3 separate regions of the Homo sapiens genome follow, and all the other regions are linked to region 2. Evidence: fine-mapped expression QTL. A gene starts in region 2. Each other region holds a variant in brackets. All regions are shown on one strand. Distances are between the middles of the regions.

Region 1 (2,757 bases), 940 kb before region 2:
AATGTGCAGTGCAGCCCACACTTGAGAGGATGAATGTATGTGCACTGTCACTTTGCTCTGGGTGGAAGTATGTTATTGTTGACTTATTTTCTCTGTGTTTGTTCCTACAGCCCCTTTTTCATATGTTGCTCAGTCTCCCTTTCCCTTCTTGGTGCTTACACATCTCAGACCCTTTAGCCAAACCCTTGCCAGTGACAGTATTTTGGTTCTCAGTTCTCACTGTTCCCTCTGCTCCTGGAGCCTTTGAATAAAAATGCACGTAGCTATGGAGTGGGGTTTAGCTGGAAAGGTGGCCTTCCAACTTCACGTCAACTTCTGGCTCCTCAGTTTGGCAGTAAGGCAGGGAAGTTGTTTTCCTATTTCTCACTGAGAAGATTGTGAATATTTCCATATGGATTTTCCATTATTGTTTGTTTGATTCTTTGTTTTAAAATAAAAATTCTGAATGTACATGACATCACAAGCACATTATTTATTTATTTTTTGCCGTTCCTGTAACAACAAAATCAGCTTTAAATCCTGAGTTGGCTACTCAGTACCTGTTGTGACCTTGAGACTTGTATGAGACTCTGTTCTTAGAGTCTCATACATAAGAGAATAGCAATATTTGGCCGGGCCCGGTGGCTCATGTCTGTAATCCCAGCACTTTGGGAGGCAAAGGAGGGCGGATCACCTGAGATCGGGAGTTTGGGACCACCTGGCCAATATGGTGAAACCCTGTCTGTACTAAAAATACAAAAATTAGCCTGGCGTGGTGGCAGGTGCCTATAATCCCAGCTACTTGGGAGGCTGAGGCAGGAGAATCGCTTGAACCCAGGAGGCAGAGGTTGCAGTGAGCCAAGATTGCGCCATTGCACTCCAGCCTGGGGGACGAGAGTGAGACTTTGTCTCAAAAAAAAAAAGAGAATAGCAATATGTGTTTATTATGCAGATTAAGTGAAAAAGCCTTCGTGCCTTGCTTTTCATACTTGATGAATTATGTTGCTTTCTTTCCCCAGTGAGAACTAGTTTTTTTTTTTTTCTGTTTTTCTCGTGTTCCTTTCCACTTCCTTCCTCCTCCAGTCTTTGCTCTCTACAATTCATCCCACACTGCTGTCAGGGCATCCATGTGACATACAGCAGTCCCTTGCCATCCCCAGGGGACTGGTTCCCAGACCCCTTCTTAGATAACAAAATTCAGGGATACTCAAGTCCCTTATATAAAATGCATATAGTCTGGGTGCAGTGGCTTATGCCTGTAATCCCAGAACTTTGCGAGGCCAAGACGGGCAGATCACGAGGTCAAGAGATCCAGACCATCTTGGCCAACATGGTGAAACCCCATCTCTACTAAAAATACAAAACTTAGCTGGGTGTGGTGGCATGCACCTGTAGTCCCAGTTACTCAGGAGGCTGAGGCAGGAGAATCCTTTGAACCTGGGAG[G/A]CGGAGTTTGCAGTGAGCTGAGATCACGCCACTGCACTCCAGCCTGGTGACAGAGCAAGACTTGGTCTCAAAAAAAAATGCATATAATTATTATTGTGATGATTTAAATGCAAATAATCTATGCACATCATCTCATGCACTTTAAATCATCTCTAGATTACTTTTAATACCTAATACAATGTAAATAATTGTTAAACTGTATTGTTTTTTATAGTTGTATTGTCTTTTTTCCCAAATATTTTCCATCTGTAGTTCTTTGCATCTGCAGATACAGAAGTCGGACTGTATATCACTATCCTACTTAAAATCCTTCGGCCGGGCGCAGTGGCTCACACCTGTAATCCCAGCAATTTGGGAGGCTGAGGCGGGCGGATCACAAGGTCAGGAGATCGAGACCATCCTGGCTAACACGGTGAAACCCCGTCTCTACTAAAAATACAAAAAAAAAATTAGTGGGGCATGCGGCGGGCGCCTGTAGTCCCAGCTACTCAGGAGGCTGAGGCAGGAGAATGGAGTGAACCCGGGAGGCGGAGCTTGCAGTGAGCCGAGATCGTGCCACTGCACTCCAGCCTGGGCGACAGAGGGAGAGTCCATCTCAAAAAACAAAAGAAAACAAGCCGGGCATGGTGGCACATGCCTGTAGTCCCAGCTACTTGGGAGGTTGAGGTGGGAGAATCACCTGAGTCCAGGCGATTGAGTCTGCAATGAGCCAAGATCGCACCACTGCACTCCAGCCTGAGTGACAGAGTCCCTATCTCAAAAAACAAAAAAAGTATATTATACTAAAATTTGTCTTCCCAAGGATTATAATTGTTTTTTATCGGAGGAGGGGAACAGGATATCACTGTATTGCCCGGGCTATTCTCCTGGGCTCAAGCAACTGTCCGGCTTCAGCCTCCTGACTAGCTTGGACTTCAGATTCGAGCGACCAAGCCTTTCACATTACAATTGTTTTTTTAATTAATTAACTATTTATTTATTTGAGATGGAGTCTTTCTCAGTTGCCCAGGCTGCAGTGCAATGGTGTGATCTCGGCTCACTGCAACCTTAGTCTTCAGGGATCAAGTAATTCTCCCGCCTCAGCCTCCCCAGTAGCTGGGAGTACAGGCACACACTGTCATGCCTGGCTATTTTTGTAGTATTGTAGAGACGGGGTTTCACCATGTTGGCCAGGCTGGTCTTGAACACCTGAGCTCAACTGATCCGCCCACCTCGGCCTCCCAAAGTGCTGGGATTACAGGCGTGAGCCACCGCGCCCGGCCAATTGTTTTTTTATTATTGAAAGGTAGGAACACTGAGAAAAGCAGGGAAAGAGTAGGACCTTCCTGGTAGGA
Region 2 (2,757 bases):
TCTCTGTCTTACAGAGGAAGAAACAGGCACAGGGAGGTTCAGTAATTTGCCCAAGGTCATACACACACTGGCCTTCAGGTATTCATGCCCGGGGAGTCTGGTCCCACAGCTGGCATGTTTGCCATTATATTATATTGCCTCCTTATAGTGTCGGCACTCATTAAGCACATTGACAGCTATGCTTGGTGAGTGACTACTATGTACCCAGCTCTGTGCTACATGCTTTACCTGGATTATTTCAACTGCACAACAACCCTGTGAGGTAACTACCATCATTGCTCCTATTTTACATAACAGAAAACTACAGAAATCTGGGGCTGGGCGTAGTGGCTCATGCCTGAAATCCCAGCACTTTGGGAGACCCTGTCTCTAAAAAAAATTTTTTTTTGGCCGGACGTGGTGGCTCACACCTGTAATCTCAGCACTTTGGGAGGCTAAGGCAGGCAGATCACAAGGTCAGGAGTTCTAGACCAGCCTGGCCAACATGGCAAAACCCTGTGTCTACTAAAAATACAAAAAATAGCTAGGCGTGGTGGCAGGTGCCTGTAATCCCAGCTACTCAGGAGGCTGAGGCAGGAGAATCCCCTGAACCTGGGAGATGGAGGTTACAGAGAGCCGAGATCGTGCCGCTGCACTCCAGCCTGGGCAACAAGAGCAAGACTCTGTCTCGAAAAAAATAAAAATAAAAATAAAAATATTTTTTTAAAAATTAGCTGGGTGTGGTAGCACATGCCTGTAGTCCCAGCTACTTGGGAGGCTGAGGTAGGAGGATCACTTGAGCCCAGGAGGTCAAGGCTGCAGTGGGCTGTGATGGCGCCACTGCACTCTAGCCTTGGTGACAGCAAGACCCTGTCTCAAAAAAAAAAAAAAGAGAAATCGGGCAACTTCCCCAAGATCGCGCAGTTAACTAGTGGCATAGCTTCACTCAAACTCGAAGTCTTAATCAGGACACTCTACCAAATGAGATCAACGGCTCAGTAATGGATTGGCATCCAGTATGAAGACTGGACCAGCAGGGAGAACTATGATGCGTACAGCCTAGAGCCTGAAGCAGATTTCACAGCCTCAGAGGTGGCACAGGCTGACTCACAACCCGGGGCAGAAAGGGACCAGCCCAGAAACAGTGACCCAGAATCACAGGGAAGTAGAAATGGGATTCGGCACAATGAAGCCCCTCCTTGACCCCATGCTCCTTACCCTCAGGGGCGCAGGAGTTAGTCGCTCAGGCGGCTCAAAGGTCTTGACGGTGGAGAACACCATCCCCAGGGATTCCCGACGCGGTGATGCCATCAAAGCGTTAATTCTGAGATGGGCCTGCCCGGGTGCGGACTCTGCCGCAGCAAGAGAAGGGTTAACTGCCCCGGGCCTTCGCCGTGGGGGCGGGGCCTCGGGGAGGGTCACAGCCCGGGACTGAGACCCGAGGTTAACCGCCCGGGGTGGGCTCCACGGGGGCGGGGCATGCTCTCCGCGGCTGCTGCCGGTATAGAGCGGTAACTGCCCAGGAGGGGGCGGGGCCCCACAGGGGCGTGGCCTCGGAGCTGCACGGCCGTGGGCGGCGATGAGAGGGTTAAGCCCCAGAGGGCCCTGGAGGGGCGGGGCCGCGGGACGGGCTCGGCCCAAGGGAGGAGCTGGGGGCGGAAGCGGCCGGCGGTCTGCGCCCTGCGCGCCTCGGCTTCTTTCCGCCCGGCTCCTTCAGAGGCCCGGCGACCTCCAGGGCTGGGAAGTCAACCGAGGTTCGGGGGCAGCGGCGAGGGCTCCGGGCGAGTAAGGGGGATGGTCCATGCTGAGGCCCAAATGGGGCGAACTCGCGAGAGTCTCTGGCGACCTGGATCAGATGGGGCGAGGGCAGATGAAGGGCCCAGGAGCTTTGGGGCAGCGAGGAGGGAGGAGCGGGCCCGTTGGCAAACTTGGGTGAAAGGATGGGGTACCTGGGTGACGAGCCCCCGCCAGGATTCTGCTCTTCACGCCCCTTTTCTCCCAGCTCCCTTCCAGGTCAATCCAAACTGGAGCTCAACTTTCAGAAGAGAAAGACGCCCCAGCAAGCCTCTTTCGGGGAGTCCTCTAGCTCCTCACCTCCATGGGCCAGACAGCTCTGGCAGGGGGCAGCAGCAGCACCCCCACGCCACAGGCCCTGTACCCTGACCTCTCCTGTCCCGAGGGCTTGGAAGAGCTGCTGTCTGCACCCCCTCCTGACCTGGGGGCCCAGCGGCGCCACGGTTGGAACCCCAAAGACTGTTCAGAGAACATCGAGGTCAAGGAAGGAGGGTTGTACTTTGAGCGGCGGCCCGTGGCCCAGAGCACTGATGGGGCCCGGGGTAAGAGGGGCTATTCAAGGGGCCTGCACGCCTGGGAGATCAGCTGGCCCCTAGAGCAGAGGGGCACGCATGCCGTGGTGGGCGTGGCCACGGCCCTCGCCCCGCTGCAGACTGACCACTACGCGGCGCTGCTGGGCAGCAACAGCGAGTCGTGGGGCTGGGACATCGGGCGGGGGAAGCTGTACCATCAGAGCAAGGGGCCCGGAGCCCCCCAGTATCCAGCGGGAACTCAGGGTGAGCAGCTGGAGGTGCCAGAGAGACTGCTGGTGGTTCTGGACATGGAGGAGGGAACTCTGGGCTACGCTATTGGGGGCACCTACCTGGGGCCAGCATTCCGCGGACTGAAGGGCAGGACCCTCTATCCGGCAGTAAGCGCTGTCTGGGGCCAGTGCCAGGTCCGCATCCGCTACCTGGGCGAAAGGAGAGGTGAGGCCTGGGGCAG
Region 3 (2,757 bases), 90 kb after region 2:
GGCTGGCTCTAGCTTTGGGCCCACCGGTTTGCAGATTCCAGACCCGATGGACGGTGTGAGAACTTGCAGCTCTGTGAGTCTGTGGCCTGGAAGTCAACGGTCCTGAGAACCTGGCTCTCTCTCTGGGGTTTCCAAACAGGAAAAGAAAAAAGGAAGAGAGAGGGTGAGTTTATAGTAAACATTTGGCATTGTTGTGTGCTTTATGTGGTTGTATCTTTTATTTAATCCTCATGAGAGTGATAAGACATAGGTATTATTGTCCAGGCCATACAGATGAGGAAACTGAGGCTTGAAGAGTTTTTTGTTTTCTTAGACAAGGTCTCGTTCTGTCACCCAGGCTGCAGTGCAGTGGCACGGTCACAGCTCACTGCAGCCTCAACCTCCAGGGCTCAATCTATCCTCCCGCCTTAGCCTCTCAAGTAGCTGGAACTACAGGCATGTGCCACTGTACCCAGCTAAATTTTTTTTTCCCCTAGAGATGGGGTTTTGCTATGCTTCCCAGGCTGATCTCAAACTCCTAGGTTCAAGCAATCCACCCACCTCAGCCTCCCAAAGTGCTGGGATTACAGGCATGAGTCACACTGTGCCTAGCCGAAGAGTTTCAGTTGTCAAAGGTCTCAGAGCTAGTAACCACAGCTGGTGGAACCGGGATTTGAATTCACCCGCTTGGACCCCAGTTTCTGGGTGGTCCCCCTCATTGCACTGCCTCTCCTCTGCATTAAGAAGGTCCAGGACCAGGCATGGTGGCTCGTGCCTGTAATCCCAGCACTTTGGGAGGCCGAGGCGGGCGGATTGTGATGTCAGGAGATCCAGACCATCCCGGCTAACACGGTGAAACCCCATCTCTACTAAAAATACAAAAACAAAAACAAAAACAAACAAACCAAAAAAAGAAGGTCCAGGCGGGGCGTGGTGCCGAGTGCCTGTAGTCTCAGCTACTCAGGAGGCTGAAGCAAGAGGATGCCTTGAGCCCAGGAGTTCTGGGCTGTAGTGCACTATGCAGATCAGGTGTCTGCACTGAGTTCAGCTTCAGCGTGGTGACCTCCCGGGAGTGGGGAACCACCAGATTGCCTGAGGAGGGGTGAGCCAGCCCAGGCCGGACACACAATGGGTCACAATTTCCATGCTACCCATGCTAATCAGCAGTGGGATCGGGCCTGTAAATAGCCACTGCGCACCAG[C/T]CTGGGCAACATAACGAGAACCCACCTCTAAAAAAAAAATAAAAAATAAAAAAAGAAGAAGAAAGGCCAGGATGACAGCTAAGAGAAGTCTTCTCCCTTAGCAGTGGAGGGAGGTATGAGGCCCACTGCCTCACCTGGAGCTTCTGAGGCTCAGCAGTGCCATGGTCCTCACATCTCTAGAGTGGTTTTCCATTTTCCAAGCACTTTCACATTCATTTGTACATGCCAGACCTTTTTGGTAGGTGTTGCTGTTACTATCCTTACTTTACAGAAGAAGAAATGGAAGTCAAGCTGTCTGCCCCCATCACATGTCTGAAAGCATGGAACAGGGGGAGTTCCAGAGGCTATTTTTGCTGCATGTATCCTGCCTCTCTAGGCTGTAGAACGGGAGGAGGCCAAGCCAGGGGAAGGAGTGATGGGGAAGAGAGAGAAGCCGGTGTCAGAGGCTACAGACAGAGTGCTGGAGACTGGATGATCTGAGAGGCCTAGGGCAGCCAGGGTTGCAGGAAAGTTGAAAGCCCCAGGTGCAACTCTGCGGTGGCCTCCTTACCAGAAGTATCTTTGGCAGCACTGACGCCCTCTGCAAAGGGGGCTGGGGGCAGGGTTTGAGGATGGGGAGCAGGGGAGGGGTCTTTGGGGCTGTTCTCTGGGAAGCAAAGTCTAGGAGCATCGATGCCATCTCTACCCCATCCACATTTCCCCTGGCTCCAGGACCACTTTTTGCCACTCTCAGAGGGTGGTTCTGGGCCTCCCCTACCCCACGGGAAGTTTGAGTAGGCACGTTTCAGAGCTCAGCCCGGGCTCAGACAGCTGACACCTGCAGCCCCTTGGAGAAACTGTCAGCCACAGAGTGGAGCAGATAGAACCGACCCCACCCCAAAGCAATTCCCTTCAAAGGAAGAACCCCACCCTGGGGTGGGCCTGTGCGGGGGACCCTAAGCTCCTTGATCTCCTCCTTTGAAGGAGGGATAGCAGCAGGGGCTCAGGCCTGAACCCTAACATCTCTACCTGGTAGGGGAGGTGGGCAGGGAAATTTCTGGGCCTGCAGAGGCTCCTCCTCTGCACTATGGAGCTGAGAAGACCACGTCAGGGGTAGGGGAACCGCTGGCAAACCCGACTCCAAGGCTGAATGTGCACAGTATGGCCTCCTACCTCACACACTCGACTTGCCAAGGCCCTGGACCTCACTTGGCTTCCAGAACTTCTGGAGAGTGGACAAGAGAAGAGGGCTGGGGATGGAGATGCTCAGAGACGTCCCTTCCCGTCTCTTGGCCTATCTCTGTTTCAGGCACTGCTCCCCACTCTGACAGCCAGGCTGCAAGATGGCCCCCAGTGACTCCTGTCTCCCTCAGTTCACACCCTTGCATTGCCCCCTCCTGCTTGCACCAGGTTGGTCTCTGTGATCAATAGAATAGGGCAGAAATTATGGCACGTTGCTTTCAAGATCAAATCTAATCTTGAAATAAAGATGTGGTAGCTTTTGTCTTTTCCACGCTGTCCCTCTGGGGGAAGCCAGTTGCTGTGTCGTGTTGTGAGAGGCCCCATAAAGACACCCACACAGGGAGGAGTTAAGGCC

The links.
Region 1: its variant is fine-mapped to the expression of SPSB2 in testis (GTEx, PIP 0.98).
Region 3: its variant is fine-mapped to the expression of SPSB2 in thyroid (GTEx, PIP above 0.99).

Annotation. Positions count from the first base shown.
Region 1 is chr12:7,810,212-7,812,968 of GRCh38, reverse strand. SLC2A14 (solute carrier family 2 member 14) reads left to right here. Exons shown (of 11, transcript NM_001286234.2): 11 at 1-455. Among named protein-coding and RNA genes, the nearest start is that of NANOG, 22 kb to the right of the region's middle. The variant G/A (reference allele first, on the strand shown) is at 1,424.
Region 2 is chr12:6,872,222-6,874,978 of GRCh38, reverse strand. SPSB2 (splA/ryanodine receptor domain and SOCS box containing 2) reads left to right here and starts at 1,676. Exons shown (of 3, transcript NM_032641.4): 1 at 1,676-1,733; 2 at 1,982-2,741. The coding sequence starts at 2,078. RefSeq lists a silencer at 1,267-1,716 and an enhancer at 2,107-2,346.
Region 3 is chr12:6,782,307-6,785,063 of GRCh38, reverse strand. It overlaps the pseudogene RN7SL380P. Among named protein-coding and RNA genes, the nearest start is that of CD4, 5.8 kb to the left of the region's middle. The variant C/T (reference allele first, on the strand shown) is at 1,182.